Linked DNA regions of Homo sapiens: regions 2 and 3 are each linked to region 1. Evidence: fine-mapped expression QTL. A gene starts in region 1. Each other region holds a variant in brackets. All regions are shown on one strand. Distances are between the middles of the regions. Region 1 holds the start of RIF1 (replication timing regulatory factor 1). Region 2 overlaps NMI (N-myc and STAT interactor). Region 3 has its middle 180 kb from the start of RBM43.

Evidence for each region. PIP is the estimated chance that this variant, and not a neighbour inherited with it, causes the effect. A credible set is the group of variants that fine-mapping cannot tell apart.
Region 2: its variant is the best candidate, but not a certain one, in a credible set for the expression of RIF1 in whole blood (TOPMed, PIP 0.67).
Region 3: its variant is the best candidate, but not a certain one, in a credible set for the expression of RIF1 in whole blood (TOPMed, PIP 0.50).

The regions. Positions count from the first base shown.
Region 1 is chr2:151,407,248-151,412,450 of GRCh38, reverse strand. It overlaps RIF1 (replication timing regulatory factor 1), which reads right to left and starts at 2,549. Exons shown (of 36, transcript NM_018151.5): 1 at 2,418-2,549; 2 at 1,924-2,037; 3 at 1,113-1,191. The coding sequence starts at 2,027. RefSeq lists enhancers at 2,477-2,636, 2,241-2,939, 2,940-3,638 and a silencer at 3,342-3,636.
Region 2 is chr2:151,280,342-151,285,572 of GRCh38, reverse strand. It overlaps NMI (N-myc and STAT interactor), which reads left to right. Exons shown (of 8, transcript NM_004688.3): 2 at 2,619-2,705; 3 at 3,530-3,625. The coding sequence starts at 2,625. Among named protein-coding and RNA genes, the nearest start is that of NMI, 6.7 kb to the left of the region's middle. The variant A/G (reference allele first, on the strand shown) is at 2,057.
Region 3 is chr2:151,075,901-151,081,131 of GRCh38, reverse strand. No RefSeq gene overlaps it. Among named protein-coding and RNA genes, the nearest start is that of RBM43, 180 kb to the left of the region's middle. The variant A/TA (reference allele first, on the strand shown) is at 3,071.

The DNA.
Region 1 (5,203 bases):
TACTAAGGAGGCTGAGGTGGGAGGATCGCTTGGACCCAGGAGTTCAAGACTGGCTTAGGCAACCTATCAAGACCCCCACCTCAATTTTAAAAATTAAAAACAAAAATAAAAGCACAAGAACAAGGTCATAATAAAAACAAACAAAAAAAATTAAAAAAAGAGAACAAGGTCATAAAAATGAGAACTCAAACTTTGGAGATAAAAGTTCAACTTTTTCATTCTAAAAACAAGGAAATTTAAAAGATGTTAAGGATAGTCAGGAAGCCATTAAGTAGGCAAGTGAAGACAGGAACACAGGTCCACAGTATGATGTCAAACATCATTTCCCTAAAGCAAAAATGATAACGGTTGTAGCAAAAACTGAGGGTGAATGAGGAAAAAGAAATTAATGCTACCTAGATTAGACCAAAGACAATTGTAATTTTAGAAGCACTTACTTAGATGTAGATTCCCAAAAGGAAAGAAAACAGATTAATCTCTGATCTCTGCTTTCAAGAGCACAAACTCAGATTCAAGTGCCCCTAGGCAACTTTAGGCAAATTAAATTAATTTCTTCACCTGCAAAGTGATCATTAAGAAATAATCTCATGGAACCATGGAGAGTTAAGTGATAAAGCGTGTAAGGTAATTAAGAAAGTACCTGAGAAGCTTTAAGTAACAATAAAGAGTATTATAATCAGTATTATTGCTGTTATTTTAGATTCAAAGCTTTTGAGTCAACTGGCAAAACTTTTAAAAACCACCAAAAGTGGCTGGACACAGTGGCTCACTCCTGTAATCCCAACACTTTGGGAGGCTGAGGCAGGCGGATCACCTGAGGTCGGGAGTTCGAGACCAGCCTGACCAACATGGAGAAACCCCTTCTCTACTAAAAATACAAAATTAGCCGGGGCGGTGGCGGATGCCTATAATCCCAGCTATTCAGGAGGCTGAGGCAAGAGAATCGCTTGAACCCGAGAGGCGGAGGTTTCAGTGAGCCGAGCCCGAGCCTGAGCCATTGCACTCTCGCCTGGGCAACAAGAGCAAAACTACACCTCAAAACAAAAAAACAAAACCAAAAAAAAAAACCAAACTACCAAAAGTGAAAAACTGTTTAACAAACAGATACATACCTTTAAAACTTTGTACAGCCGAGGAAGTTTTTTCTCAATTTCTGTAATTACTTCTTTTCCTTCTTCTCCAGTCATACGACTTAAAAAGCAGGAAGAACACAAGTTTAAGTAGTTGACAGGAAAAAAAAAAATACTCTCAAAAATACATGTACAATCTTTTTAAAAATTACTTTCTAACTCCTGCAAATGAATTGACCCAGTAGGTAAGGTCCTTAAGGGTATACAGAATATATAATGCAATATATATCAGAAATGAAAGTAGAAAAACCCTCAGAATAAGTTTTTACATCGAGTACATGCAAGTTGTGACAACCTGACTCCAAAAAGACAGAACAGGGATCCCTATTCCTAGTTACTAACGATTTGCTAAGCCTTTCCAAAGGGTTTTACAAAACTTTAGTACATTTCTATGAAAATTACTTTGAAGCATTTTGCAATTAATAAAAATCAGTGTATTGCTCTGTTAAAAAAACTCTGGGTAGCCACATTTTCCCAACACATCGGAGGTTTACACTGAAGACCCCTCCTCCAACAACTACTTCCAACCGAAACTTTTAAAAATCCCTCGCTTGCAAAACACACGTGCATGCTCCCTCGTTCCAAACACACACCTCAAGCGCAGCAGCAGCAGTACCCGGGAACGTCACCTAGAATACATCTCCCCCGCCCCCCAAGGCGTCCGCGACTCGGGCGTCCTCACATTTGCTAGACTTCTAGAACTCACATTCATTCTACGCGCCCCTCCCAACCACCTTCTTTCTCCCCACTATAGAGCGCCCCACTCTCCGCTACGCCCCGTGGCGGACCTCACCTGGTCAGAGTCAGGTAAGCGTCAGTCTGCCCTCCATGGGAGGCAGAAGGGTCTTCCAAAGTCTCCAACAGCGGCGCGAGGGGGCTCTGACCCCTGGCCGTCATGTCGGCCACCCTGAGGCCCGAACCGGAAGAGGAGAAAATCCAGTGACCGATGGAAACAGCCCCGCGGCGGCCCAGTGTGAGTCCGGCCCTCACACCCGCACGCCCGCCCGGGCCTCACAGCCACGCCGCGTCTGCACCCCAGGCCTCCGAATCACCAAACCCCAGCGCGAACCTCCTCCGGCGCCCGACACCAGACACCTGAGCCCACGCCACATTCGGGCCTGGGCCCGCTCCCGCCACCACTTTCCCGGGCAGCTTTCAACAGAGGGAGGAGATCGGCGGAGGGCGGGAGAAGCCCGGGGAACGAGGCATCTCGCCGCGAGGGGGCGGAGGGTGGGCAGACTGAGGGTTCCCCGCGGCCTACCACTGTCACCCCGATATTTATCCCACCTAGGAAGATCAGGACAGGGTTCTCTCCGCCTCTGCCCCTCAGCACCCAGACGCTGCCAGAGCTCGACTTTCCCAGCTCCGGCTGTTTACTCACGCGTGCGGCGCGCTCCCTCCTAGACCAAGATGGCGGCTGGGCGGGCCCAGGAGTGCGCGGGAGTAGGTTAGGCCTGGCGGGAGAAGTTCGAGCCAATCCAACAGTCAGCGGCACACCGGAGTTATCGATCGCCTCCCTTCCCATCCCTTCCCATCCCTTCCCTGCCCAGCTGCCGCGTCACGCCCCTCTGGTGAGCATCAGGTGGTGGTGTTTTGCCTAAGGCGAGAGACTTGAAATTCAAAATGTGAGTTAATTGCTCAGACTCACTAGACTGAACATAGTGGGCCCTCAGACTAAGTGTTCAAACTCCAAGTCCAGTGCTTGTTGAAGTTTTAGCAACAAATCAGTTAGCAAAAGGAGATAACGTACTGTTGGGTTTAAGACTAAGAGCTGGCCGGGCGCGGTGACTCACACCTTGTAATCCAAGCACTTTGGGAGGCCGAGTCTGAGGTCAGGAGTTCGAGACCAGCCTGGCCAACACATGGTGAAACCCCGTCTCTACTTAAAAAAAACAAAAATACAAAAATTAGTTGGGTGTGGTGGCGCACGCCTGTAGTCCCAGCCACTTGGGAAGCTGAGGCAGGAGAATCGCTTAAACCCGGGAAGCGGAGGTTGCAGTGGGCCGAGATCACGCCACTGCACTCCAGCCTGAGCGACAGAGTAAGAGTAAGACTCCGTCTCTCAAAAAAAAAAAAAAAGAAAGAAAGAAAAAGAAAAGAACTGTATCTCAAGCTGGTCTAGATTCCAGCTGGTCTAGGTTCCATGTGACTTTAGCAAGTTAATTAACCTATGCCTCAATTTCCTCCTCTATAAAATAGGGCTTTTAATAGGTGAAGTGAGAAAAGGTTGGAGAGGCCAATGGTTCTCAGGTCTTAAGCGTACATAACAATGGCCTGGGGATATTCGTTATTAAACTGCAGATTCCTGGGCCCCGCCCATATGCATTGTAATTCAGTAGATTTAGGTAGCTCCCGAGGATGTGCATTCTTCTGTTAGGCCCCTGGGGGGTTGAAGGGTGGGATTTGGCCAGGGCTTCTTCCCTAGAGAAACGTCAGTAAACACAATGACAGTCATTTCTCCTTACTGTGAATATGCTGCTCCTCCCCCGCCTTTTTTTTTTTTTAAGACGGAGCCTCGTTCTTTCGCCCAGGCTGGAGTGCAGTGGTGCGATCTCGGCTCACTGCAACCTCTGCCTCCCGGGTTCAAGCGAGTCTCTGACTCAGCCTCCCGAGCAGCTGGGATTACAGGCGCCCGCCACCACACCTGGCTAATTTTTGTACTTTTAGTAGAGACGGGGTTTCACCATCTTGGCCGTGCTGGTCTCGAACCCCTGACCTCGTGATCCACCCGCCTCGGACACCCAAAGTGCTGGGATTACAGGCGTGAGCCACCGCGCCCGGTCTGCTTCTCCCCTTTTCATATGCCTTCGTGCACTCTCCACAACAGACAGGATTGCATTAACTCTAAATCAGACACATGAAGCCCAGCAGCAATGGAACTCTCCATCATGGGTTCCTGGCCCAGGATTTGAGCCCTCACTCACATGTGCTGCAACTCTCAGCTCTAGAAGTGGGATGTTGCTTTTTGCTCTTCTTTGTGTCATCTGCACTTAGCAAAATGACTGCCAAACGACGCAGTACATACATAGTATGCTTATATATATATTTATTTATTTATATGTATTTATATATATTTATATTTATTTACATATATTTATATATATACACACACACACATACATATATACATATACATATATATATATATATATATATTTTTTTTTTTTTTTTTTTTTTTTTTTTTTTTGAGACGGAGTCTCGCTCTATCACCCAGGCTGGAGTGCACTGACCTGATCTCAGCTCACTGCATCCTCCGCCTCCTGGGTTCAAGCGATTCCCCTGCCTCAGCCTCCCGAGTAGCTGGGATTACAGGCATGCGCCACCACGCCCAGCTAATTTTTTGTATTTTAGTATAGACAGGTTTCACCATGTTGGCCAAGATGGTCTTGATCTCCTGACCTCGTGATCAGCCCGCCTCGGCCTCCCAAAGTGCTGGGATTACAGACTTGAGCCACCACGCCTGCCTCTACCCATTCATTAGAACATAAATTCTGTGAGAACAGGGATTTTGCTTTATTTTTTTCATAATTTCCCATTTGTAATGAAAGGACTACGGTGGTCATGTTGCTTGTATTTCTTTCATATGTATGGTTCTTTGATCTTCCAAAAATGTTATGTTTTAAATTTTATTATTTTTAAAGACAAGGCCTTGCTCTGTCACCTGGGTTGGAGTGCAGTGGTGTGATTGTGACTTACTGCAGCCCTGAACTTCTTGGGCTCAAATGATCCTCCTGCCTCAGCCTTATAAGTAGCTCAAAAATGTTATGTAAGATTTTATCATTGTCATTCCTGTGCCTAAAGTTCTCCAGCCATTCCCATCAGTAACAGGATGGATTTCAAAACTTTTGACATAACATGCAAGCCTATCATGATTGGGCCACTGCTTGTCCTTCATCTCCAGATTACTCCCACTTCATCAGATTCTGAACAGTCTGCTAAGATCTCCAGCTTCTCTGTGTCTTTGAAGACTTTTATTCAGAGCATGTATTTAGAATATTAATTACCTTCTTCAAGAGTAATAAATAAGAGTCAGGTGGCTCACACCTATAATCCCAACACTTTGCAAGGCTGAG
Region 2 (5,231 bases), 130 kb after region 1:
TCTGTCGCTCAGGCTGGAGTGCTGTGACGCAGTCTTGACTCACTGCAACCTCTGCCTCCCGGCTTCAAGCGATTCTCCTGCCTCAGCCTCCCGAGTAGCTAGGATTACAGGTGCATGCCACCATGCCTGGGTAATCACACATAGGTATTTCTATCTGTCTGTCTATTTATCTATCTATCTATCTATCTATCTATCTATCTATCTATCTATCTATCTCAATCATCAATCAGAAACCACAGCTGCAGGATTACATTGAAATCTAGTTCCAATCAACAGTATTTATTCTTGTTTTCTCCATTTCCATATTTATAATTATCTTCTCTGACGGTGAAAAACTTGGCTCCTATTATCCTCCATATATTTACTTACTTGATCAATTCTGTGTATGTACTTTTGGCCACTGGAGCCCTTTCAGTTGGGTCCCCATGTCCCTTTCACATACTCCCATCATATTGTATGTGTTTGTGCATGTGTTTTAGTGCTTTTTACTTTTCTGGCACTACAAGATATTCCAGGCTTATTTTGTATATTTTATACCCCAGACCTAGAATCAGCCATTGCTCCAATGAGCCCTGGTTTCTTTTATTGAAGAATATTATTAGAAACCAAGATCTGGGTGTTATGCGACTCTCCTCTTTTTTTGACACTCCTGTGTTCATTAAACTAAGACATAGCTAAGTTTTTGCTAGTCTTCTATTTTATTTTTAAGGAGGAATAGATGTCTTTTATTTCTTTTTCAAGAATATTGAGAATTTAGCCACTTGAAATCTTGGAAAATTATATGGCAGACTGTTTATTAATGTGTATCTAAAAACATAGAATCATGATATCCTTTGTCCCATTTTTGATCTGAGAGTTTTTCATCTCAGTAAATTCATATGTAGGCAAGAGTTCTTAAATTTTGTGTACCATGGATTCCTTTGCCAGCTTGGCAAATCCTATGGGCCTTTCTCCAAAAAAAAAACATTTAGTCAATGCCTGTGGGGACAGGCATGGTGGCTTATCCCAGCACTTTGGGAGTCCAAGGGGGGCGGATTGTTTGAGCCCAGGAGTTCGAGACAGTCTAGGCAACTTGGCGAAAACACATCTCTACAAAAAATACAAAAATTAGCTGGGCATGGTGGCACATACCTGTAGTCCCAACTACTTGGGGGGCTGAGGTGGGAGGATCACTTGAGTCAGGGATGTTGAGGCTGCAGTGAGCCGTGTTCATGCCCCACTGCACTCCAGCCTGGGCAACAAAGTGAGACCCTATCTAAAAAAAAAATTAAATGCATAAAATAAAATACATAGAATTACAAAGTAAATCAATTGTATTGAAATATGACTGGGATTATAGGCACCTGGCACCACGCCCAGCTAATTTTTTTTGTATTTTTAGTAGAGACGGGGTTTCACCATGTTGGCCAGGCTGGTCTCAAACTCTTAACCTTGTGATCCACCCGCCTTGGCCTCCCAAAGTGCTGGGATTACAGACATGAGCCACCGCGCCCGGCCAGAAATCAATTGTATTGAAATATGGTTATCAGAATATTTAAAAAGCAAATGTTTGATATAGTGATATATATCAATGTATTACAATATATTACAAGACCTAGTGGTGAGGTTAGTAACTAATGTAGAAGCAATGTTAAACACAAACTATTTTAGCATATCTGCAACAATATTCTATGAAACTATCTGTGCTTTCTATTGGTGACTATCACAGGTGCTGTGAATACTACTGTAGTTTGTTACCATATTCATAATTGAAGAGAATGCTAAGCTTCAATTAGAGGTTATTAGAAATAAACATATAATTTCTTCCCAATCCATGTTTATGGACCCAGCAGGAGAGTTAGTGAAAGCTTCAGGTAAGAACACCTGCGTAGAGAAAGCATATGTTGGAGGCCTCTTGACTTTGTTTACATTTGGGGAGAACAATAGGGAGAATTAAATATTTTAATCAAAAACTTTGAAAAACGTTGGAAAACCAAAATAGTATTCATTTAAAATGGAGCATGATATTATGGTTGGAATGTGAACTACAAAGGAACATTAATGTTCATTACTTTCT[A/G]TATATTATTTTGTTGAAAAGCAAAGGATTTTTAGAATCTTTTTATATATTATAGGTGTGAAAGTTATTTGAAATATTGGCCAGGTGCTGTGGCTCACGCCTGTAATCCCAGCACTTTGGGAGGCCGAGGGGGGTGCATCACTTGACAAGAGTTCAAGACCAGCCTGACCGACATGGTGAAACCCCATCTCTACTAAAAATACAAAAATTAGCCGGGCATGGTGGCAGGTACCTGTAATCCCAACTACTTGGGAGGCTTGAGACAGGGGAATCACTTGAACCTGGGAGGCAGAGGTTGCAGTGAGCCAAGATCGCACCATTGCCCTCCAGCCTGGGCGACAGAGAGAGACTCTGTCTCAAAAAAAGAAAAAAAAAAGGAGTTATTAAAATACAGACTTTGTTTGGATATAAGCCATATGATAATAAAGCCTTTGATGATGGGAAAAAAAGATATAGCAAAGAAGAGATGTTTCTTCCATAAAAGGGTAAAAGTTCTTATTTCTTTGTTCTTAAATTTGTGTATATATGCTATGCTTATAATATTTATTTTTTATAATATTAGGGGATCATGGAAGCTGATAAAGATGACACACAACAAATTCTTAAGGAGCATTCGCCAGATGAATTTATAAAAGATGAACAAAATAAGGTAAAAAGGAAATTACTGGGTATTATTAAAAATTATTTTATATCTATTAGTTTTGCAGTAAGGCATGTTTTGTATGTCTTTGTCCAACATTACCTTGAATTTGGGAGGCCGTTAGGCTTTAAAAAAATTTTTAACTTCCATTATGTTATTTAAGCCTTACAAGAAGTGTCATATTTTTATTCTTTCTCTTATAAGGCTTACAACACTAGCTGCTTTCTCACTCACACCCTCATTTCTTGGATTTGCATCAACAAGTTAAGAGCATAGTCAGCAATTATCTCATTAGACCCCAAGAGGGAACGGAGGCCCAGGTAGCTTAAACCACTTCCCCAAGGTCATATGTCTGGCTCATTAAGGTAACTGTGTACTATGCGATACTATGGGAATCACAGATAATTAAGAACAAAAACAACAACAACACCAACAACAAACTGCCCCAGAATATGTCCGCTATTACAGTGCAATTTAAAAGTCTTATCATGCTCACAAATAGCTAGGAAAGGAGTTGATGCAGCACTGAAGTAATATTCAGAAGATCTGATCTCAATCTTTGCCTTACTATACAACTTTCTGTGACTTCGGTCTAGTGTAAAAGGTGGTTTCCTGATTTATATAATGGAGATAGTACTACTTGGCAATGTTAGAATAGACAGGTGATGATGTAAAATATTCAACAAATGCATTATTCACATAGTCATATTTATTCTGAGACTGTCTAATGTCTTTCTTTGGTCAGGATGAGAGAAATTTATAGTCTTTAGTTCATTCGGAAAAATGAGTTCAGGGGCTATTTACTTTCTTTGGTACCATTTGATATTTTTAAGGGACTAATTGATGAAATTACAAAGAAAAATATTCAACTAAAGAAGGAGATCCAAAAGCTTGAAACGGAGTTACAAGAGGCTACCAAAGAATTCCAGGTACTCTCTTAATTATTTTATATACTACATTTTTGATGGATGCATGGTTTTTGGAAAAAGCATTTTAATTACACAAAATTCATTTTTAAAACCTTATCATCATCCATGGCACCACCATTTGTAATAGTTCAAAATGGAAAACAACCCAATGATTCCTTCATAGTAGAACGAATTAGTGAATTGGGGTATAGTCATATGATAGAAAACTACACAGCAATGAGAATGAACAGATCATAATGACATGCAGCAACACAAATGAGTTTCATAAACACAATGTTAACACAAAAAAGACAGAAGAGGGCATACCATATGCTTCCCTTTAAATTAAGCAAAAGCAGGATGTTTGAAGTTAAAACAGTGGTTATTTTGGAAGCAGGTAAGACCCAGAAGGGAACCCAAGGGGGTTTCTGGGGTGTTGTCATGTCCTGCCTATCATCTGCGTGCCAATCACGTGTGTTAGCTTTGTAAAATTTCATCTTGCTGTACTTAATGATACATGCATTTTTCTATTATTTACGTACACTTTAATAAATTTACAAAAACAAAAAATTAATAAAATTTACCAAAAAAAGATGGTCATTAGCAAATTACTGTTGGATCAAATTCTGGCTTTTCTCACTGAGTTCTTTTATAATTCTTCTCATCCAAGGTGCTTTGGTAATTTAGATGAGTTTCACGGTTCAAAAAATTGGACATATATTAATCCTCACCATTTAAATTCTCTCCTAAATTTTCCTGTATTTTAATTGTACATAATTTTCACCCATTTTTTTTCTTAACAACTCAGATGTTAAAAAATTAAAGCATTGAGGCTGGGCGCGGTGGCTCATGCCTGTAATCCCAGCACTTTGGGAGGCTGAGGCGGGTGGATCATGGGGTCAGGAATTCACGACCAGCCTGGCTAAGATGGTGAAACCCTGTCTCTACTAAAAAAGAAAAATTAGCCAGGCATGGTGGCGGGTGCCTGTATCCCAGCTACTTGGGAGGCTGAGGCAGAGAATTGCTTGAACCTGGGAGGCGGAGGTCGCGATGAGCTGAGATCACACCACTGTGCTCCAGCCTGGGCGACAGAGCGAGGCGCCGCCTAAAAAAAAAAAAATTAAAGCATTGACACTTCTTGTTTCTGAAGTGGGAGATAGGATATTGAATATCAGGAAGTGAGGTTTTCTGTGTTTATGAGATGGGTGACTTTGTGCAGAAGACTCTGTTAAGATTCTGGTTACTTCTCAGACTGGAGCTAGAATCATGCAGTCTTATAACTCAAAGAGCCTTTAGAAACCGGCCAGCCCTAGTCGACCCACTTTGCAGAGGACCAAACCTGTGATCAGAGAGCTTAAGTAAATTTGCTGTCTGTCGCAGTGTGGTCAGAAATAGAATCAAGCTTTCTCACTCTAATTTCAGAAAGCCCTTGCTCCTCAGCATATACTGGGTATTTCTGCATTATTGGGTAACACTCTGCCTTTACTCAGACATTGTAGACTGTTTTGATGTCAGCCTTACCGTAATCAGAAGTTCCACTGGAGTTATGCATAAAGGCAAAGAATAAATGTAAGATTAAATTGAATGACTCACTGAATATTTCTAATCTCTGTGTTATTTTCAGCAT
Region 3 (5,231 bases), 330 kb after region 1:
GTTCAGTGTTAATATCTGGGCATATTTGAGAAGCAGCCTTAAATTCAGAGGGAGGGCAGTGGGCTGCATAGGACCACTAGGCCCCAGTAGCCCCTCATTTAGCAACCTATTCCCTTCATTACTGATGAGGAAACTGAGACTCAGAGCATCAACTTTGCCTATGATCTTAAACATAAATAAATCATATATAGTGGCAACATAGTTTTAACCAATGCACATGTTTATGAAATGCTTATTAGTCATCCAATACCAATTGAGATGGTTTGGATCTGTGTCCTCTCAAACCTCTTGTTGAAATGTAGTCCCCAATGTGGGAGGTGGTGTCTGGTGGGAGGCGACTGAGTCCCAGCAGATCCTTCATGTCTTGGTGTTTTCCAAGTGATAGTGAATGACCTCTCGTGAGTTCTGGTTGTTTAAAAATGTGTGGCACCCACCTCTCCCTTGTTCCTGCTCCGCCATGTGAAATATTTGCTCCCACTTCACCTTCCACCATGAGTAAAAGGTTCCTGAGGCCTCCCCAGAAGTTGAACAGATGCTGGGGCCATGCTTGTACAGCCTGCAGAACTGCGAGCCAATTAAACCTCTTTTTAAAAATAAATTACCCAGTCTGTCTAAGGCAGTACTGTATAGCAATACAAGAATGGCTTAATACACTAATTGACAGTATTTTATAAAATAACAGAATGCTCCATACACAAGGAAATCAGGACTCACCTAGTTCAGGGGTCAGGTCACATTAAGGGGTAATGTGGGTTTGAAGGCACGGGGAGAACCAGAGAAATCAAGCTATTATGGAAGAGGGTAGCCCTGACCTGTTCTCATGTGAATGTTGAGGCTCAGAAAACAATACCCCCAAAATATGGCCCTTTGACATGCTGAACTGAAAAAGAAGCCTAAAGATCTTTCTGACCTACCCACCCACCGTCCTCTCTCTCAGTCCTGTCTCTCCCAAAGTACAGGATTAAGTTACTCTTATAAGTACTCTCATCTGCCTAAAATCTGGACCCTCCAAAAAAGGAAAGGATGACTTCTGGTCCCTTCCATGAGTTTTCATTAACTGAACTATGTTGCAGGAAGGAAGACTAAAGTCTGTCAACACACCTGGACAGATTTTTATCACAAACCACTGTTCGCTCTGAGGGTCCAACAGACTCTGTCCCAGGCCATTGTATATTCTTCAAGCCCATTGAATTCTCCTAAAGATCATTTACTAACCCATTAACGTCATCTACACTGCTCCATCTCCCTTTCCCCTAAGAAGAAGGGTATATAACAATCTGGACCCCGTTGGGTTATTAGGTAATCAATCTACAATTCTCCCATGTATGCACATTAAAATAAATTTGTATGCCCTTTCTCCTATTCATCTGCTTTTTGTGAATTGGTTTTCAGCAAACCTTTGGAGGACACAGGAGGAATTTTCCTTTGGCCACCACATGAGACTTTGGACCCAGTGTTGCCAGATCTGACTTCTGAAGTAGCTAGAAAGTTGGATGTTTGAATCTTTATGTAACAACATTTTTATATATTGGCAACCAACCACCCCCTCAGCCACACACGCATAAATAACCCCCCACCCCCAGAAAACCTCTCTGCAGGTAAAATAAGATGTATCTATAGTTTCCATCCACTCAGAGTTTTGCTCTATTTGTGCCTCTGTTGTGGTCTAACTGTCTTCTGTTCTGATTAGCAATGGATGCCCAGAAAGAAGTGACTTAACCAAGGGCATATCTGAAGATTCTCTTCAAAAACTTTCTGTGAAAAACTGACAGATCATTCAATTTTAAAAAAGTATGATGGAAAAAAAAACTGGAATCTGATAATCCAACAAGCAATAATTCTGAGGACACCTCTTTGTTTATTGTCTGTAACCTGTATCATCCAAGCTGATAAACATAAAAGGTTAATAAGGTGGACCAGTGCAATAATAAGTTGGTAGATAAGTGTGTGAAAATTAAGTAGAAGTGTCCATTGGTTCAAGATATTCTCAGAGATGAGCTCCTATTTTAAAATTGTGGGCCAGCACTTAAAATAATATGTCAGCAATTTGCCCATAGCCCCAGAGATAAAGTTGAGTGAGATAATAAGTATTATTTGCAATTCCATTGAAAGAAAATTCATGCATATTTGGCAGTAATCTTTGAGGATGAATGAATGGTTAGATGGTTCATTCATTAATGCCATAAATGTTAGTTGATTTCTTACTGTGAAAAAGTCACAGTTCAGGCACTGAGGGTAGAGCATGAGCAAGAAAGGAAATCCCTTCCCTAATGTGACTTATGCCCTAATGAGTTGAATCAACTGCTTAGGCAATACACAACTGGCTAAATAATAGATCAGCTCCTCCATCTCTTTTAGTCATGCCAACAAGAACATAAAAGTTGATGGTGGCCTTAGAAATGGCTGTCTCTCTTGCTCCTAAGCCAATTTTTTTTCTTTTTTTTTCCCAGACGGAGTCTTGCTCTGTTACCCAGGCTGTTGTGCAGTGGTGTGATCTCGGCTCACTGCAACCTCTGCCTCCTGGGTTCAAGCAATTCTCCTGCCTCAGCCTCCCAAGTAGCTGGGATTACAGGTGCGTGCTAACACGCCTGGCTAATTTTTGTAATTTTAGCAGAGATGGGACTTCTCTATGTTGCCCAGGATGGCCTCGAACCCCTGACCTCAGGTGATCCACCTGCCTGGGCCTCCCAAAGTGCTGGGATTACAGGTGCGAGCCACTGTGCTGGGCTGCCTAAGCCAATTTTTTATTGCCATGGCAATGATATGCTTACAGGTTTGGATTATGGCATCGACTCTTTATTCATTTACTTAATTAGCAAATAATCTTCTTGCTTATTCTGTTTGGGGTTTATAGCATTTCTTGAATTTGCAAGTTAACATCCTTCATCAGTTTCTAAAGATCTCAGCTATTTTTTCTGTAAATAGTGATTCTACTCAATTCTCTAGCTCTCACTTAGCTTTCTGAGACTCCAGTTACATATATATTATGCCATTTGACTGACCTAGTTGGGTTTTACTTTTAAAAATAGTTTCTAGTCCTTTCTTCATAGTTCTTCACTTTGGGTTTTTT[A/TA]TTTACCAGTCTTTTATATCACTAGTCTCCTTTCTTTATATGTAACCTGTTTTAAAACCAACTATTGAGTTCCTAATTTTAGAGATATTACTTTTCAGTTTTAGAGTTTTTATTTGATTCTTTTCTATAGATTCTAGTCCTCTGGTGAGATTTGCCACTTTTTCCTCTGTTTTCCTGAACATATTAATCACGATTATTTTAATGTCACTCTCTGCTACCTCCAATATATAGTCATTATGGGCCTGTTTCTATTTCCTGTTTTTTTGTCTTGAGTTTTGTTGATATGATCTTGTCTTTTGTCATGCCTAGTAATTGTTGATTGAATATGAGACATTAGGTAAGAAAAAAATTGTAGAGGTTCAAATAATGATTTCTTCCTCCAAAGAGGTTTTACTTTTCGTTTTCCAGGCAGATAGAGTAGAACTGCTCACCTTAATCCAATCAGGGACTGAGATATATCAAAGCTGGATTACAGTTTTGGTAAGTTCTTTCTAACTCTGTTTTATTTTTAAAAAATTGTAATTTTTAATTTTGTTAATTGATGAGTAAAAATTATATACTTTTACTAGTTAATAACAAAGTAAACAACAAAATAAAACAAAAATTGTACAACATGATGCTTTGATATAAGTATACATTGTGGAAAGGCTAAATCATCATACTTATCATTTTTTTTGGTGAACACATTTAAAATCTACTCTCTTAGCAATTTTCTAGTATGCTTTACATTGTTATTAGCCATAGTCACTCATCGTGCTTACAATAGCTCTCCTGAACTTATTCCTCCTGTTTAAGTGAAATTTTGTATCCCTTGACCAACATTTCTCCAATTCTTCCTCCCCCATAACCCTAGGCCCTTGATAACACCATTCTACTGTATATTTCTACACATTTGACTTTTTAAGGATTCCACATATAAGTGAGATCATGTAGCATTCATCATTCTGTGCCTGACTTATCTTGCTTAGCATAATGTCCTCCAGGTTCATCCATGTTGTTACAAATGACAGGCTTACCTTCTTTTGAAAGGCTGAATAGTATCCCGTTGTATATCTATACCACAATATACCACATTTTCTTTAAACGTTCATTGATGAACACTAAGATTTAAAAATTTTTATTTATTTATTTTTGCTCTATTAAAAAGCTTTTTTTAAACTTTTATTTTAAGTTCAGGGGTATATGTGCAGGATGTGCAGGTTTGTTACATAAGTAAATGTGAACACTAAGGTTGATTTTCTATCTTGGCTACTGTGAATAATGCTGCAGTTAATATGGGAGTGCAGACATCTGTTTGATATACTAATTTCATATCCTTTGGACATACACCCAGAAGGGGAATTGCTGGATCATATGATAGGGTAGTTCTACTTTCGATTTTCAAGAAACTTCCATTTAATTTTCCATAATTGCTCTACTAATTCATATTCCCACTAACAGTATAGAGGTGTTCCCCTTTCTCTGTATCCTCACAAATACTATCCCCTGTCTTTTTTATAATAGCCACTCTAACAGGTGTGAGGTGACATCTTATTGTGGTTTTAATTTGTATTCCCTGGTGATTAGTGACATTGAGCATGTTTTCATATATCTTTTGGCCATTTGTCTTCAGGTCCTTTGCCCATTTCTTTTTTTAAAAATTTAAGTTTGAGACAGTGTCTGGCTCTGTCACCCAGGCTGGAGTGCAGTGACACAATCTCAGCTCACTGCAACCTTCGCCTCCTGAGCCCAAGCAATCTTCCCACCTTAGCTTCCCAAGTAGCTGGGACCACAGGTGCATGCCATGACGCCTAGCAATTTTTTTTGTATTTTTAGTAGTGACAGGGTCTTGCCATGTTGCCCCGGTTGGTCTTGAACTCCTGAGCTCAAGTGATCTGCCTGCCTTGACCTCCAAAAGTGCTGGGATTACAGACATGAGCCACTGCACCCAGTCCCTTTGCCCATTTTTTAATTGAGTTATGTGTTATCTTGCTATTGAGTTGTTTGAGTTCCTTATATATTTTGGATATCAACCTTTTATCAGATGTATGGTTTGCAAATATATTTCTTTCATTTTGTAGGTTGCCTCTTCACTTGGTTGATTGTTTTCTTTGCTGTACATAAGCTTTTTAGTTTGACGCAATCCTATTTGTTTATTTTTGCTTTTGTTGCCTATGCTTTT